4 separate regions of the Homo sapiens genome follow, and all the other regions are linked to region 2. The links come from fine-mapping of genetic effects on gene expression. A gene starts in region 2. Each other region holds a variant in brackets. All regions are shown on one strand. Distances are from middle to middle. Region 1 overlaps DOCK10 (dedicator of cytokinesis 10). Region 2 holds the start of DOCK10 (dedicator of cytokinesis 10). Region 3 overlaps DOCK10 (dedicator of cytokinesis 10). Region 4 overlaps DOCK10 (dedicator of cytokinesis 10).

Region 1 (2,500 bases), 100 kb after region 2:
AAACTGAGCTGGGTTAGAATGTCAATTCTCCCATCAACTTGCAGCCAAGTTGTTGAAGTCTTCAAAATCCAAGCTTACTCATCTAAAAAAAAAAAAAAAGAGCAGTAATGTTCTTTTCCAGGGTTGATGTTGGTATTCAGTGAGAGAAGATATTAAATACTGATTATGGTCTTTGCCATTATGTATGATAGTGGTAGTAGAAAAATAATAACCATTATTGGCATTTACAGGGTAATTTATTTTAAAATGGTAGTGCATATTGTTACCATTATTATCAATTATTTGGTGTGACTGTTATTTCTACAAGAAAACACATATGAATTAGTTTTACTATAATAAATAAATACAGTAAATGTGACTTGTAAGATGAAAATGGGGGGAGGAAGAAAGGTGAAACCCCTATAATATACAACAGATGAGACATACCTAAATCATTGCTAGCTTAGGTGTGTCTGATCTGTTGTATATTGCAGGGGTTTGCCGGAACTTCCCACACAACCAGGCACCTCCTACAGAGAGCAAAATTATAGTATGTGACTATCGTCACTGAAGGTAAACGGGGTCTTAAACTCATTTTTTGGCTTCCAGATATTCTGCTGTCATAGGAGAGTGATGGGTTGAATGGGTAAGGCTTAATGGAAAATTAGAGATCAGGGCTGCACTGAATGTATTTCCCTGGAGAACCAGGAAGGTTCTTAAGCCCCCATTTTCAGGATGCTTGATACCTGGTGTACTTTTCACAGAATGAGACAATCTTGGGTTGCACTGGTAATTCAGGAGTTTACCAAACCTAAATTCCCACACCTCAAAGACAGAAGTCATTAGCTAAAAGAGGTCCTCCTTTAAGACCATTCAAATCCAAATAAACATAAAAATTGAGGAAATAGTAGTCCCTTATTCTAGGCACTATTCCTTGTATTATATCTCATTAGATTCCTATAGTTGCAAGCATTGGAAACCTACTCCAATGAACAAACACAGTCCAGAGAAGGGGACAGAAGGAAGAGTGGAGAGATGGGCTCAGAAAAGAA[C/T]GAGGAATGGACTTAGAGAAGCTCAGAACAGTGGGAAATGGGTGGTTTTGATGATTCAAACTAATGGAAAGTCTTGTGGGAGTGTAGCCCCAGAAATGAAACAATTCCAATCCTTTCATCAACATTTGCATCCTTCCACTCAAGATTCAGAGTTCGGCAGGAAAGCGTTGAATGGGTCTTGCTGGGGTCACACACCCATGATGCCAGAAAATCAGGACGCTTTCATTAGTCAAATCCACCAAGGCTGCTTCTTATGGGAATGTGGAAAGAAGTAAGTCCCCAAAAGGAAATTAAAATGCTAGTACTAAAAGAAAGTAGGATGAGTGCCACATAGGCCAAAAGACAACAAATATCCACTATGCATATTCAACTTCAAGTAGCCACAGGTAGGAAAGGAAATAAAAGAATGGTCTGTCATTATGGGAAGACATATTGAAATTATAAAATGCCTATTGTTGACAAAACTATTTACATTTGTATGTGTGACATGTATGTGCGTGTACAACACTTGACCTGTGAGTGAATGTTTTTGTGATTATTAAAAATAATAAGATAGTATCTGAGGTTAAGCTGGTGACAGCTCTCATCACAGGCTTCATATAAATTAATCTAAAATTCTCCAGTTTACTCTAAGGCATTAATTTCCCTTGTGTCAGGCAGCCTTGTAATTGGGTTGTGATGTATTTTTAATGATATTTATTATCATTCAAGTGTTTCTAGAAAACTAAATGAGACATGTAATTTAGTTTGATTTAGATCTTCTTGGATATTTTCTACTTCTTTACAAATACAGAGAAGCAGCCACTTTTAAATTTTATTTTTATTTGCTATACAAAAATGTGTGAATTTTAACATGCTCATAAGAGATATACATGGTCAGATTTCTTTAAAAAGAAAATAAGACTTCAAAGATCCAAATTTAGTTTGAAAGTGCACCTTACATCACAAATCCTATAAAGCTCCTTTGTGTCCTTGCTTTCCCTAAAGAAATTAAGGGTTAACAAAATAGAAAATTCTGATTTTTCTAACGATAATGTGTGTGTTGAATGTAACAATACAGTCATCCCTTATATCTGCAAAACATTTTATGCTTTACCGACTTTCACCTGCTTTATGTCACTGAAATGGACTAAGACATTCAAAGAGTTACTGCTGATTGATTTCTTGTGAGATCTGTGTCCGTCTTTGTTACCAAGGGAGCCATTTCCAAATTCAGCTTAATCTGAGTTTGCCCAGCTGCACAGTTGTTAACTTTGATTTGGCTGGTGTTTTTCCATTCTCATGAAACTGTGTGGTTCAAGACAGACAGAAGGTTAAAGGGTTAGTGTAAGATGGCTTATTCTTTACTTAATCACTTCCTTTTTGGTAGGAAAAAGTAGCCTTGTTTTCAGAAGCTCAAACATTTGAGAGGTTCTCCAGGGGAACTCCCTCTGATGAAAGGCTAAATTAAATCTGTTACATGACCCAGG
Region 2 (2,742 bases):
TCAGGGGAATATGCATTCAGAGACATCAAGTCTGGGTACACCTGGGAAAGGGTACGGTTGGAGGGAGCTGTTCCTACAGAGATCTTCATGTACCAACACAGAGGCAACCACCTACTTTGCTTACCCTGAAAGGTGGTGTTGCTCCCACACTGAGTACCAATATGAAAGCATACAATACAGGTACAGTTATTTGTTATGCAGGCTGTCTTGGAACTAGATGATGTTTCAAATGGCACTTCCCAAATCTGCCAGAGCCTCTTACCCTCTTACGCCTGTTATGATTTCTAGAATGTGCTGAAATGATCCCCAAACAGCATCTCTGGCTAATTGAATCCTGGCTAACAAAGAGCTGACTAAAGTGCATTTATCAATTGCTTAAGAATTCTTTATACCCAAATGTGACCTTGTGTTATAACTATCTATCATTGGCTTTAGAAAGTGGCAGGGTCATGGATCCATAAAAAGCTGTTAAGAAAAAACCAGACCACTTGGAAAGGCTGTCCCAGATCTCTCCAGACCAGTATCCAGGGGCCAGAACTTCTCTGCCCCCCATCCAGTCCAACACTGAATTGCAGAACCACCCTGGGTATGACCCAGGAAGAGACTTCTTAGAAGGCTTTCATCAGATACCTATCTAGAGGCAAAGTGCAGGCTAGATGGGTATGGGCAAGAGAAGAGCAGAGACAGCATAACTGTGAAATCCACCCCCGACCTGACCACCCTACATAGTAACCCTGCCAGTTGGTTCTTGCCTACTCATCCTAATGCCACCCAAAGTCTCTTACCCCCAGAACGCTGATTTATTGGTTTTGAGTTCGTGTTAGTAGCTTAAACTGTCTCCTTGATTTCTCTGTATTTGTTTATTTGTTCGCTTGGTTACTTGCTGTCTCCCACCCCTACCCCGAAAAAACCTATCAGCTCTACACAGCCTTAAAGTGTAGTTGCTAAGTTCCTCTCCGTATCCTCAGTTTCCAGAACAGTGTGAGCTGGCATATAGTAGGCGCTTAATAAATACTCATTGAAGGAGTGAATGAATGGGGAAGCTTATTCCAAGGCCCTGAACATGGACTTCTGGCAAGGGAGCCTTCCAAACGCTGGCTTGGGCGATGCTGCTGGGATCCCAGCCACCAGATCTTTAATAAGCCTCTGACCCCTTCCCGAGGGTGGAAGGGCGAACCGAGCTTGGCCCCCACCCACTAGCCGGACCCAGAAAATAGAAGTCTAAACGGCAAATGCATCCAGGGCTCCAACTCTCCCAGCAACCTCCAAATGAGGCTGACGGCCTTGGACAGGCGACGGCCTTGGACAGGCCCCGCCCGGAGCCCCTCGGCGGCCGCCCCCCGCCCTCCCCCGCAGCCTGCAGTTCCCCCGGGCGGCGTGGACAGCCCCGGCCGGCCAGCTGAGCCCGTGTGGGCGGCGCGGGCAGGAGCCGCCCCACACGCGTCCCGCGACGCCCGCTCCAGATGCGCCGCTGCAGGGCCCGGCCGCCAGCCGAGTTGGCCGCGCGCGCCCGGGGGAGCGCAGAGTTTGGAAAGTCTTCGAGAAGCTTCAGAGGAGGGAAGGGGGTGGGAAGAGTGGGGGTGCAAGAGAGAAAAACCCGCCTCTTGCGAGTTGAGCGAGGAAGAGGGGGGGGAAGGCTCCGAGTTCCGCTTCCTGAACGGCGGGTGGATAGAGAAGGTTGGCGCGGGGAAGACCGGCGGGAGGCGCGCCCCGGGCCCGCGGCGCGATTGGCGTGACCGGCGATGGCCGGTGAGCGGACCCGCAGGTTCACCCGGAGCCTGTTGAGACCTGGGCAGGCGGCCGAGCTCCGGCACAGCGCCGCGTCCGCCGCCGCGGTGGCAGTCAGCAGCCGGCAGCAGCAGCGGGTGAGTGCGGCGCGTCCTCCGCGCCTTCCCGCGCGCCCCAGGCGCCCGGGGGGAACGGAGCCCAGCTTCCCCAAAAGCTCGGCGGGCCCAGGTCCCCGCAGCTCACGGGTCCTCTCCTCCGCACTCCCTCCCCCGCCGCCTCTGCGGGCTCCCCCGGCGCCACCTCAGCGAGGCAGCGCCACCGACGCGTAAGGACCGGGGGCGCGTTTGTGCACGCGGGACGCTCAGAGGAGCAGCTGCGTGGGTAGCAGAAGCGCAGCGTGGGAGAGGATGTGCAGGGGCTTTAATGGGGCGCGAGGGGGCCGGAATGCACCGCCAGTCACACTGGTGCTAAGTGATACGAGTGCCAGAGACCCCGGGTGGGGTGGGGGGATCTACAGAACAGAACCCCTGAGTCCGGAGGTCTGCGCGTCCCTCTCACCCTCCAGTAAACAGACCAGTGCGCTGAGAGAGAGGGATGCAGTCCGTGGTCCTCGCCCTGGTTAGAGCTGGGGCCCCCCGACGTTAACTATCGCAGAAATAGATGTACTTGGAACAGCCCTCCCACCGCAGGGTAAAAACCCACAAACCACTTAATACTCCTCCAGAAAGGGCTGAGGAACACAGGCTGGAGGAGACGTGGGTCATTAGGTCTCCAGCGGTTTCTGATATTTTTCTAAGATGTTTCGCGGGGTTCTCCCACCAGCAATGCTTTACTGGTTACTTCCTTATTGAAACGGCTTCTAAGTGCTGGGTGATTTCCGCGGGAAGTCCCTGGGGCAGCAGCCAGCATCTGATGCTAGGATCCTATCCATACCAACCCAGATGTTCCTGCGTTGCAGTAGGTCCACACTGCCGGGGAGAGGTGGCAAGAGACAAATCAACTCTAGTGGAAACG
Region 3 (2,500 bases), 150 kb after region 2:
AGAATTTCCCTTACTTTAACTAAAGAAAGTGGAAGTTAATACCAAGAAAGGGAAGAATCAGACTGCCACAAAGTAAGAAACTTTATGTATTCAAACTGAAAATCAGAAGTTCAAAAATATAACCCTTTCAGATATACCCCAGAACAATGAAGATGAGCACTGAACAGCAGAATTATTCTTTAAAATGATTTTACAAAGCTAAGCATTCCCCTCTAAAGACTACATGTATTTAGGTCAGTAATGGAAACAGACAATTTACTTGGGTCTTCCGAGGCTAATAGAAGTAAATCATTTTCATACCTCCTGGATTAGAAGAATTCTCCTATGTCTGCTACCAATTTAAATTGCTTATTTCTTTTTATGAGTTGCTGAGACTGCAAAATGAAAATTTGCAATTATAGAAAAGCAAAAAAAAAGGTGAAATTTATTCTTTAAATTTAAATGTGTATTATTGACTCTTAAGATTTTCACTTTTTTTATTTTTAAGCGAGGGTCCATAGGAAGATACTGAAGAAATAGATGACTTCAGGCTAGAATGGAAAATGTAAGCCTTTACACACTAGGAATAGAAATCAGCACTAACTTGGAGATCCCAGAAGAAAAAAGCAGCATAAAAATATATGATGCCACTGATTTCATTAATCCACTGGGTAAAATACAGAGATGTGTGACATATTAAAATTTTTTACCATGGTCGATTTGATAGAAAGAAGATGTAAGGAAGAAAAATTCATAAGAGTATAAATTGTGACTAAAGATCAAATAAAGTGTGACCAGCTTAGCTGGGCTGAAATAGAACAGTTTTTGTTTTTTTTTTAATAAAAGAGCATTTTTTTGAGTGTCTACAGTGAGCCAGAATGTGCTGGGTGTCATACATGCATTATCTCATTTAATACTCATAACCCTATGGAATAGGAACTGTTATCCTCATTTTATAGCAGAAACTCGGAAACTGAGAGGGAATTTACCCCAAAACTTACAGCTGATAACTGATGGGGCACTCAGGCATCCCACACTGGGTAATCCAGGTCATTTGGTCAGAGAAAAGAGAAATGAGGCTGCCTATAGTTATCACCAATGTCGGATGCAAACACCAAAGGGTAAGGTCTGGGATGAGCCCTTTATCTTGGTATCCCCGAGGCTCTTAGAGACCACGCAATGGTCCTGGGGGAAGAATTTTAAAGTCAATAGCCACAGGTGCTGATCTTTTCATGACCTTTAAAAGAGA[G/A]AAGTCATTGCATAGTAGCCCCACAGACATGTGACTGAGCTTGAAGATTGCTCTTTAAAGGCAGGAGGCTGTGCCTTGTGGCTTATTAAAAACCGGATTGGGAAATAAGAATCTTCAGTAGCCCTCAAGCCTCAGCAATGATCCAAGCACTGTCTGCCTTCCCTGCCCAAGGGCATTGGACAGGCCTCCCTCCCGCAGCCCTCCCTCCTGCACTGTTTCCAGCCCCTACAGCCTTCCTTCCTGGATGCTCCACACTTGGCCCCTCCTCAGAACCTGTACTCTTGCAGCTCCCTCTGCCAGGGGATTTTCTCCTAGGTCATCACACAACCAGCTGCTTCTCCTCCTCAATTTAAATGTTACCTCTCGAGAGAGGCCATCCTTGAAGAGTCTTTCTACACGTGGCCTTTGCCATTTCCACAAGGATCACTCATCGCTCTTCTCCTCTTTCTCCTCTTCGATTTTTTTCTTTTCTTTTCTTTTCTTTCTTTCTTTTTTTTTTTTTTTTTTTTTTTTTGAGACAGGGTCTCACTTCGTCCCCAGGCTGGAGTGCAGTGACACAATCTCAGCTCACCGCAACCTCCACCTCTCGGGTTCAAAGGATCCTCCTGCCTTAGCCTCCCAATTAGGTGGGATTACAGGTGTAGGCCACCATGCCTGGCTAATTTTTTTGTGTTTTTAGTGGAGACAGGGTTTCACTATGTTGGCCAGGCTGGTCTTTAACTCCTGACCTCAAGCGATCCACCAGCCTCGGCCTCCCAAAGTGCTGGGATTACAGCCGTGAGCTGCTACACCCAGCCTTGATTTTCTTAACAACCATTTTCACTCAGAGAAATTATCTTATTTCTGCTTAATTCATGATTGACTCTCTCCTCCCCTAGAATGCAAGCTTCCTCAGTTCAGGAACTTATTTTCTGATATGTGGTTGACATTATTGCAGCTCTTCTGGGAGCCAGGTAATATCTGGAAACTGGAATGTTGAATGGCAAAGGAGAATGGCCCCCAAGAATTAAGACAGTTCTCAATAATGCACTTTGAATTTGATCAAGCAAACTCAGAATTAAGAAAAACCACCAGTGAAGTGGCACGCTTACATTCACTACAACCCTAGCCCCAGATCTGACTTAAATTGACAGTCTCTGGTCTGCATAATTTTTAAAAGTGAAGATTAAGATCAGCATGGATGTGGCTAGGGACTACTGGGGTTGACTGAGTTTTGCTATTGACTTCGTTGGTATTCTTTGTCTCATATCTTCTGAGTTTTGCTATTGACTT
Region 4 (2,500 bases), 130 kb after region 2:
AGGAGGAGAGGGGGGCAATTAAAGTGATCTAGAAATAGGATGCAAACTTCCTAAGCAAAACTTCTATAACGAAGCTTTTATTTTAATATACACAAAGGGATCATATAAAGTTGGAAGAAAGCTCAGCATACTAATTAAAACCAAGCTCTTGGTTCAGTCTCTCTTAACAAAAGGAGATGAGGGAGCAAAGAATTGAGAACAATACAGTGGCTCAAGAGGGAACAAAGGTCTAGGGACCACTTCAGCTGAATGGCTGAGAGAAATACTGACAAAGTACTAAGGTAGCAAGTTACTCTGACAACAAAGCCCTCTCTGATTTCTGAAAACCAATGCTGCTGCGGGAGTAGAATAATGATAAGTGAGGAGACTTCATCCAAGTCTCATTTTGATCATGGCATAAAACTCTTGGGGACTTAGGAGGTATGATAACATTGAAAGAACAGAAGCAGGCTGGGTGCAATGGCTTATACCAGTAATCCCAGCACTTTGGGAAGCCAAGGCAAGAGGATCACTTGATCTCAGGAGTTCAAGACCAGCTTGGGCCATATAGTGAGACTCTATCTCTAAAAAAAACTTTTTAATTAGCTGGGCATGATGGTGTGCACCTGCAGTCCCAAATACTCAGGAGGCCGATGCAGGAGGATGGCTTGAGCTCAGGAATTTGAGACTGCATGACTGAGCCATGCGTATGCCACTGAGCTTCAGCCTGGGCAACAGAGTGAGACTCTGTCCGTAGAAAAATAAAAAAGAATAAAAGCAAATACTTATCTCTACAGCCACATCTACACATGTACACACACACACACACACACACACACACACACACACAAACGATGATGATTATGTACTGTCTTCATCCAAATAGTACTAGGCTACCGGGGCAAGGAAAAGTTCAGATTTTAAGCAAGGGGTTCAAACCAGAAATGAATTCTGGAAAGGAAAAAACAAAAATGAAAACAGGACCCAAGACTAAATGGTAAATACAAATATGATTTAAGGCGAAGTAAATGTTGTTGAAATCTCTAGCTGTCCATAAAAAATACACACACACACACACACATACACACACACACACACAACTCATTTAAATCAGGGCAGAAGCCAACTTTATGTAGGCACAGAACGTTCGGCAAGAGGCTAGGTCTGCACGATGTTCCTAAGTGT[C/T]TCACACACATAGAAACATACACACACACACACACACATTCAGAGTCTTTAATTAGCTAATATCCATCAAGACTGTCTTAGAAGGGGATATGAAATGAAACATTTCTAAAATGTATTTGACCATGTAGAAATTCTGTCCATTTTTCTCCAAGTATCTTTAAGAAACACCTTTGAGAAATGCTAATGTAAATGTGATCCAAGGAGATCACCAGAAACTAGAGGCACAATGTAGTTCAAGTAAAACAGAAATCAACAATTGGGTGAACCGGCATGTGCATTTCATTCAGGCTGATTCTAATGCAGAAAAAGAAAATATTAAACCCTCCAGGAGATCAGATAAATTAGTTGTTTTCTTTTCATGGCCAAACCTCTATTCTTTTTTTTTTTTTTTTTGAGGTGGAGTCTCGCTCTGTCGCCCAGGTTGGAGTGCAGTGGCGCAATCTCAGCTCTCTGCAAGCTCCGCCTCCCTGGTTCACACCATTCTCCTGCCTCAGCCTCCTGAGTAGCTGGGACTACAGGGGCCCGCCACCACACCCGGCTAATTTTTTTGTATTTTTAGTAGAGACAGGGTTTCACCATGTTAGCCAGGATGGTCTTGATCTCCTGACCTCGTGATCTGCCCGCCTCAGCCTCCCAAAGTGCTGAGATTACAGGCGTGAGCCACCGCGCCTGGCCCTCTATTCTTAATTCTTACTGTTAGCATCGAAAATGTCTACCTGTGTTCAGGGAGGTCATGCAATTCTAAGACACAATTCGGCACAAGCCCCAGTGATGGTAGTTCTATGTACTTACCCTCATACAGCAAATTATAAGTATAAATAATGTTACTCTCAGAGTTTGAAGTAATTAACAATGATCATAAATGTCAGTGTAATACTCTTTTAGCCCTTAAATTTCTCCCTTCATTCCCCTACCTAATTATCAGATTAGCCTTTCTCTTGTCCTAGGGGCAACTGTGAATCCGGTGGCATAAACGAGGTATATAAGACTCTGCTAATTGCAATTCAGTTAGGTGGAGCTAATTATCTTTACAAAGAGTGAAATTTACATAGAAATTTCTTGTCCCACTGATTTACTGTTACTACAGATCACATTGTGTTGAAATTATGTGATAAAGAGAATCAACCATTGGATGAAAGATTAGAGGAGGTTCATTATCCAACATGGGCTTAACCACTGGCTAAACACAGTCCCTGCCCTCAAGGTGCATACCATCAGGCAAGAAGTTACAGACCTCTGATTAGATTTCTACGACACACTCTGACAAGTACCCCCTGGAGTATACTACTTTAAGATAAACAAGGCCGGGTGCGGTGACTGACGCCTGTAATCCCAG

What was found. PIP is the estimated chance that this variant, and not a neighbour inherited with it, causes the effect.
Region 1: its variant is the best candidate, but not a certain one, in a credible set for the expression of DOCK10 in whole blood (INTERVAL, PIP 0.79).
Region 3: its variant is the best candidate, but not a certain one, in a credible set for the expression of DOCK10 in whole blood (TOPMed, PIP 0.85).
Region 4: its variant is the best candidate, but not a certain one, in a credible set for the expression of DOCK10 in lung (TOPMed, PIP 0.63).

Annotation. Positions count from the first base shown.
Region 1 is chr2:224,938,797-224,941,296 of GRCh38, reverse strand. All of the region lies in intron 1 of DOCK10 (dedicator of cytokinesis 10), which reads left to right. It overlaps LOC124906121 (a long non-coding RNA gene), which reads right to left. Exons shown (of 3, transcript XR_007088106.1): 3 at 13-82. Among named protein-coding and RNA genes, the nearest start is that of MIR4439, 70 kb to the left of the region's middle. The variant C/T (reference allele first, on the strand shown) is at 1,032.
Region 2 is chr2:225,041,375-225,044,116 of GRCh38, reverse strand. DOCK10 (dedicator of cytokinesis 10) reads left to right here and starts at 1,649. Exons shown (of 56, transcript NM_014689.3): 1 at 1,649-1,865. The coding sequence starts at 1,743. RefSeq lists silencers at 1,253-1,622, 1,813-2,052 and an enhancer at 2,603-2,742.
Region 3 is chr2:224,891,640-224,894,139 of GRCh38, reverse strand. All of the region lies in intron 4 of DOCK10 (dedicator of cytokinesis 10), which reads left to right. Among named protein-coding and RNA genes, the nearest start is that of MIR4439, 120 kb to the left of the region's middle. RefSeq lists an enhancer at 904-1,530. The variant G/A (reference allele first, on the strand shown) is at 1,229.
Region 4 is chr2:224,906,745-224,909,244 of GRCh38, reverse strand. The region is part of intron 3 of DOCK10 (dedicator of cytokinesis 10); the gene reads left to right. Among named protein-coding and RNA genes, the nearest start is that of MIR4439, 100 kb to the left of the region's middle. The variant C/T (reference allele first, on the strand shown) is at 1,165.